2 linked regions of the Homo sapiens genome follow. The protein of the gene in region 2 interacts with the protein of the main gene of each other region in a pairwise test. Each region holds a gene or a part of one and is shown on either strand. Other genes may lie near its edges.

Region 1 (3,656 bases), on a different chromosome or scaffold from region 2:
TCCAGACCACAGTGATCTCTTTCTCTGTGTCCCAGTTACATAATCCTTATAATTTTACACATGAGAAAACAAACATGCAGAGCCACGTCCCATCAGAGGGCAAGCTGGGATTTGAGGCTGAGTTTTCTCTTCTTGGTCTGGTGTTCTTTCCGCAGCTTGAGGCTTGACCATGCGGGAACCAGATGGAGAATAAGCGAAGCCTGTGTGGGGCTGTCTCGCCCCGTACTTGCCCATGTGCATGTGTGCACAGTAGGTGCTCAGTGCCTCGTACAGAACATGCTAGAACCCCCGAAAATCAACTCCAGGGCCACTCTAGGAGCATGTGACCCAGACTGTCAAAGTCACATCAGCAAATATGTATCTCATCACGTGCCCAGCCCCAGTACTGGGTGGTGGCAGGAGTGTCAGAGCTGTGATGTGACAGGGTGTGGACAGATGCTAACCTTTTTATTGTAAGATAGAAATCACACCGGATGAAAAGACAAGGTGAACTACATAGTCATTTAAGTTCTGTGTGCTTTAGGCAAATGTGGATATTAAATATAAGGTTACATATTGCTCATATTAATATGAATAATCCCTGCTTGATTCCTTCCTGTGTTTACTGAGACATGTTCAACTACACTAAATAATAGTGATTTTTAAAAAACTTTTCCAAACAGTACAATTTTGTGGGAGTGGTACTCAAAGAGAACAAGAATATAAAATCACTCTGAAGTTATAGCTGATAATTTTTTCTAGGAAAAGGACTGGTTTGAGTAATGTACTGTGTTACTAATGACCACGTTGAAATTCTGGAACTTGAATCTGCTGTATTCTAACATTGTCAACTTTTTTAAAACAGCTGTTGTTGGCCTACTGTACCCCTGTATCGACAGTCACCTCGGAGAACCCCACAAATTTAAGAGAGAATGGGCCAGTGTCATGCGCTGCATAGCAGTTTTTGTTGGCATTAACCACGCCAGTGCTGTATCCTTAATTTTCTGTGCTACGTCCAGAGTATCTTCTTAGGTTATATATTGAAGCGTTTTGTTTTGTTATATACTCAAATGACTCCATGTCATAATACAGACATGATGGTGGTACCTACCCATTTCAGATTACTAAAAAGAGAAAGAAGAATGGGGCTATCGATGACTTCATAGTAAAATATATTGTTTTATGGTCAAAATAAATATATATTTATTTATATTTTTATATATATTATATATATTTTTAAATATATATAATATATATAATAAATATATATTTATATAAATATATATAAGCACTTTATATATAGCTTTCAGCAAGTTTATTCTTATGGTTAAGTTTTTGACTCAGTGATGGCAGGGAGATTTCAGGTGATCTTAATGATTACTGTAACCTGTATCCAACAAATCCTTTCTTTAGCTTATTACACAGTTTTTATGGACAGTGAATTATCTGTGGTACAATAATAAAATACCCATGTTTTTAACCCTTGTGGTTTTACGTTTTTTTATCTTAATAAGAGTCAGCAAACTTTTCCTTAACTTTTATATCACCAGAAATTGGATTTTGCCAATAATGTCCAGCTGTCCTTGACTTTAGCAGCCCTATCTTTGGGCCTTTGGTGGACATTTGATCGTTCCAGAAGTGGCCTTGGGCTGGGGATCACCATAGCTTTTCTAGCTACGCTGATCACGCAGTTTCTCGTGTATAATGGTGTCTATCAGTAAGTGTGTGTTTTCAAATATTGGCTTTGGAAAGCTTACTTAACTTTCATTAAAACATCCACTAAGCTTAGATATTTTCATATTTTATTTGTTTTTTATATAGAATGATACAGATTTAGGCATGAAATTCTCAAAAATGCTGCTATCCATAACTTAATGTAACGCAAAGGAAAACCAAGTAGTAGCAGTTACAACCAAACAAATATGAACATTCGTAACATTGGATGGTTGATATGCGTTCTGCATATCCCCACTACAGAGAATCTGTGATGTAGAATTGAGCCAGGTGAAATTGACTGCTAAGGTACAGTTTCTTTTCTCGCTCCAGGTATACATCCCCAGATTTCCTCTATATTCGTTCTTGGCTCCCTTGTATATTTTTCTCAGGAGGCGTCACGGTGGGGAACATAGGACGACAGTTAGCTATGGTAAGTGAAATGATCATATTATCTTCTAAAACTTGCGTCTCTTTACCTTGATAGAATGACTTTACATGATACATTCAAATTTGCGTTCATATATTCTGGTTCAGACTTGAGTGACAACTACTGAGAAAAGCTTATATTTAAAAAAATAGGTAATGATACCCAGGTAATTCTTTGCTAAATTATAAAAATTCATAATATTTGATCTAGAAAAGGAACTAGAGCCCTCGCACTGCCCCTTTGAATTGCAGATGTGGTCAGTGTTCTGAATTCTTGAAATTTCTGTAGTAAGCAGTAGAGAAAGTGACTGGTGTGTGAGTGTCCCCTCCTCCTTCACCATCGGAAGCAGATCTGGATGACCTCATGCAGTGATACTTTGCTCCCTGAGCATCAGTCCACCAGTGTTTCTTTTCACAAAATCAGAGTGGATGCAGATGATGCTGGCCTCTTAGTCCACAGTCAAGCAAATCGAGCCTGAGGCTGCAGAGTCTGTCTCGGGCCAGGGCAGGGACTAATGTGGGTGGGCAAGGGGACAGCCTGGTTCAGGCAGGCAGCACCTTTCTGTGGGGCAGGTGGCCCTGGGCATGGAGAAGTGGTGATGAGAGCACCGCTGCACGTGGCCGGGTCACCATGTAGACGGACTGTCCTGCCTGAACATTGCATCTGTTCTCAGCTGCAGGAGAAAGCAGTGCTACCCCGCAGAGCTTCTCTCACAGCCCCCCTGAGGGAGACGGAAAGGTAGTGAACTCCAGGATGGCTTTAGCAGTTCTCATTAGTTAAAAATTGACATCTTAGCACTTCAATTTAAAAACATAGAGGTGGACTTTTAAATGTTATTTTGAGTTGACTTTGGCAGGCTGAAAGAAAGTAAATTAAAAAAAACAACAAAAACCTAGAGCTGTTGCTCTCGGAGATAAGCTCTGGGAAAACTTATCTTAGTACCTCATGCTATTTTTAAAACAGTACATTTATTTTTGCCAGCTGATACCCTTCTGTGAGGAGTTGAATTTGAAGACCACTTGGCTGTTTCACAAAACCAGAAGTAATTACAGGTAGAATTTGCAGTCTTCCACTGGTTACTGACTCTCTGCTGCCAAATTTCTCATGATGGAGAAGAAAGGACTTTGCTTGCCTTTTTTTTTTTTTTTTTTTTTTGAGACAGAGCTCTGGAGTGCAGTGGTGCCATCATAGCTCACTGTAACCTTGAGCTCCCGGACTCAAGCAATCCTCCCGCTTCAGCGTCCCGAGTAGCTGGGATTACAGGCACATGCCACCATACCCGGCTAACTTTTTTGCTTTTTGTGGAGATGTTATCTCCCTGCCTTGTCCAGGCCGGGCTCGAACTCGTGGGCTCAAGCCATCCTCCCACCTTGGCCTCCCAAAGCACTGGGATTATAGGCGTGAGCCTGGCCTTGCTTTTTTTAATATTAAAAATCTGGTCGGATGGTCCCACATGGAAATAGTATGTTGTTTTCATGCATTCGCCATCATCCCCGTTAATAGTCTTCAAAGGAGAGCTGGCAACTCCATCATT
Region 2 (3,656 bases):
TGACTTTGACAGGTATAAAGTGATTGTCATAATTGAAGGAAAACCAGAATAATCATCTCAGGATTACAGAACAACAAGAGACTCTTCTATTGTTAACTGTTTAAAATTTAAGGAGCCTGGGGGTGGAGAGAGATTAAAATCTCAGACCAAAAAAAAAAAAAGCATAATTTAGGGGCAGAGTTTTTAGATAGATTTGGCTGTTATTTTCAAGCATCAAGTAGGAGATTTTTTTAAAGTCAGGTAGGATTTCAGTGAAAAATATCTGGGCACTTGACAAAGTATCCAGAAGGTAGCAAGGCTGACACATCTACTTTTTGGTGCCTTCTGTTTCCAGAGTTGGTATGTGGCATTCTGAATAAGAATATTAAAATATTTCTTCCTAGGAACAAAATAACAAAATCAGCACAAACTTTTACTCAGAAAGAATAAATGATTGGGACTTAGTTCTATGTTCAGCAGCTTCTTAAAAAGGGATTAAAGCATCAAGTGGAAAGGGTCATTCATACTTTTCAGTGTATTACTGTAAATAAACTTTGCCTGCTTGTTGAATTGGGGGTAGGAAGGGATAGAGGTGGTAAATTTTAGATTTATTGAGCTGGAAGGAACCTTAGAGATTACCATTGATCTTGCAGATGAGTAAATTCAGGTATAATTAAGTCTGAATATAGAGGTAAGGAGGGGAGGCATTTATTTATTGAAATGTAAATGTTATCTGAAAGTGTTATTTAGAACTGCCACTCAGAGTTTGCTCTTAAGATGGAGAGTGAGGATCGGCATCACCTGGGTACTTAGATATGCAGGCTCTTGGGTCTCATCTCAGACCTACTGTATCAGACTCTGCAGTTAAATAAGGTTTCCAGGTGATTCGTATGCAAATTAACATTTGAGAAGCAGTGCTTTGGAAGACTTTCTGGTAAGGTTTGTGTCTGAGTCTTAAAAGATGCACCTAAGTTTCCTGTTGTAGGGTTGGTTATAGGCACTTGGAATGTCTCATGGAAAGGAACTAATGGGAGGCCTCTCAGAATAAATTAAGTCAGAGAAACTGGTGTTTGGAGAAAATCTAATCAATTGGATTTTCTCACTCTTAGCCATAGCATTCAGATTTTTTGTCATTTAGTGGAAAAGGACCTTGGACACAGGCAGCTTCAAAGCGAACTAACAGTCTAAGTATAGTGAAAAGAATCATTTTAGAGTTTGCAGTGGAAACTACTAAAAATGAGGGTACATCTTGAGCTGAAGTTCTAGATTTAGGACTGTAAGTAGGGTGGTAGGAAAATACTCGTCTAGAGCTATAATCAGAGATATTGATTGCAGTTAAGGATTTAAAAGGCAGGTAATTATTGTGTTATATCTTAGATTTCCTTCCTTGAAGTCCTTACTCTCTCTGTAACATCTTTTAAAATAGTTTGCCAACTATTTAAACCTGTCTATTTAGCTATTCTAGTTATGGATTATACTTCTGAAGATTAAGGTTTGGAAAATTCTAGTCATAAATCTAGTTGCCATAAGCAGGAAGCCATAAGAAAATTCATATAAAAAGTACGTGTCTTTGGAATTTGACCATCTGATCCACATACTCCTAATTGTGGGCTAAGAAGGAAAGTTTTTTAGTGCTGATTTAAGTAACCCTATGAAGCCCTGTTAGCCTCACTTTAAACAGAATTTATAAACTCATTCCCACTTAAAATTCACTAGAATTTTCTTATTACAGTTAGTGCTTTATTGTTAACAGAAATATTGAGATGTGATACAGAATTTTCTTTAAGAAAGAATGAGACTGAAATTTATAAGAGAGATGAATCTTTACAATTCCAAGCCTTTCTCATTTCAAGTTTCGTGAAACACTGGTGGATAGTTTTAATGAAACTAATATAAAAGAAAAAGATAACTGCATTAAATTAATAGAAACCTTATATACAACACAAAAAAGAAAAAGAGGCTTTTTTAAATGCCTAATATATTTGGGTAATCTAAGAATTTATAGAAATTAAAAACAGTTCTAGACACACTTGTTTTATAAAGGGGCTTTTCCTAGTCTAGAGACTTTCATTCTAAAATCATTTTTTAGTTAGTATTAATTTAGCTCAAAGTCAGAAAAGTTTATTTCTGTTTAGAATAACTAAATTAAAGGTTAAGTTGGTATGGTGAAATACTTTATTTCAAAACGTTTATTTTAGGAGTTTTGGTTTTAAGAATTTCTAATTACATTATTTGTTATAATGTATTCTGTCCAATATACTTCCACAAAGACTTAAGACATTGAAAATTTGAAATAATGAAGTGAAACAGTTACATACTTAAATGGAAAGAAAGAAATGTGTATCTAAGGGTCAGTCTGAGGGAAACAAGTTACTAGGTTCTTCAACTAAATTACTGTTATTCTGGGGCTCTAAATTAGACTCTTTCATTAAAATTAAGAAAGAATAATAGCATTTCTGTCAATGCCTGAAATAATTACAGACTGAATATTAAAGCAACAAAACAAGTCCTAGATGGGTCTTGTCTTATAGACAATTGTTTAATTATCTAAAGAATATCAGTAGCACAAATATTTTATTGTTTAAAATGAAGACTGCTTTAAATTCTGCCATGCATGAGGGATGGTAGGAGTTGTCATTCAGTTATATAAATTTTTATTTGTCTCCCAGACAAGGTTCAACAACTTCATAGGTATGGGCCTAGGTCTAATACCTTCCACAGAAAAGAGATCTTGCAGTCATCTGAAGGATTTGTACAAGTATAGGTTGACGCACAAGTATTCTTTTCCACTTAATATGAAATATAACTTTAACTGAAAAGAATACTGAGTTCTAACTTGTCCCTAGGGGGGAAAAAATTCTGTGATCCTCTGAACAGTTACATGGGGTTATTTAAGGTATAAATGTTGGTTCTGTATGCCAAATATGACAGTTTTGGCTGGTCAGATTTCTCATTGACATTTGAGAAAGCGGAATAATAAAGGTTAAGAGTGTGAATTCTAGAATCAGTCCTCCTGGGTTTAAATCATGTCTCTGCCACTTACTTTGTAATCTTGAACAGATTACTTATCCCTCTGCTTCTCTGTCCTCTGTAAAGTGGGGATAATAGTACCTGTTTTATAGGATTTCTTTAATAGAGTTTATATGGATGATGATTAAATACATGTGAAGTGTTTAGAACAGTTCCTGGCATAAAGAAAACACTCAATAAATGTTAGTGCTTATTACTATTGTTTAACAGAAACTAGCCAACTAACTCAACCATGAAAACACTCCTACATAGAAACAAGCCAAATCATCAGTATGAAATAAGAGTGTTTGTCTTTCTACCTGCTGTAGCAAAAGTGCATGCATCTGATTCAGCTTAAAACTTTAAGCTGTACTTTCCGGGGGTGAGGGAGGATGGGCTGAGAACAGTTAACTCTGTTTAACTTTCAATTGAATTTGTCATAAAAGTATGTTTTTTACTAACGTTGAATTTTAACTGCTGTTTATTTTATATACGGTACAGGAAAATAACCTGTATGCATTGCATGCCTGGGTTTTTTGTTGGTTTGGGTATTTTTTTGTTTGTTTTTGCTTTCTTTTGAATTAGTACAAAAACCTGAGGAGTTTTACTAGAAACCCCGTATCTTGATGAGGCAGACTTATTTTATCTGAAACCTGCTTAACCTTTGG

What was found. Proteins that work in one complex are often made in the same cells at the same time.
Region 1: the proteins of HTR2B (region 2) and INSIG1 interact in a two-hybrid assay, tested with the Homo sapiens proteins (one large-scale study listed by BioGRID and IntAct).

Annotation. Positions count from the first base shown.
Region 1 is NC_000007.14:155,300,722-155,304,377, forward strand, and holds part of INSIG1 (insulin-induced gene 1 protein), read left to right. Parts: intron 1-844; coding exon 845-969; coding exon of another isoform or gene 970-999; intron 1,000-1,529; coding exon 1,530-1,696; intron 1,697-2,025; coding exon 2,026-2,125; intron 2,126-3,103; coding exon of another isoform or gene 3,104-3,174; intron 3,175-3,656. UniProt on the Homo sapiens protein: Oxysterol-binding protein that mediates feedback control of cholesterol synthesis by controlling both endoplasmic reticulum to Golgi transport of SCAP and degradation of HMGCR.
Region 2 is NC_000002.12:231,115,043-231,118,698, forward strand, and holds part of HTR2B (5-hydroxytryptamine receptor 2B), read right to left. Parts: intron 1-3,656. UniProt on the Homo sapiens protein: G-protein coupled receptor for 5-hydroxytryptamine (serotonin). Also functions as a receptor for various ergot alkaloid derivatives and psychoactive substances.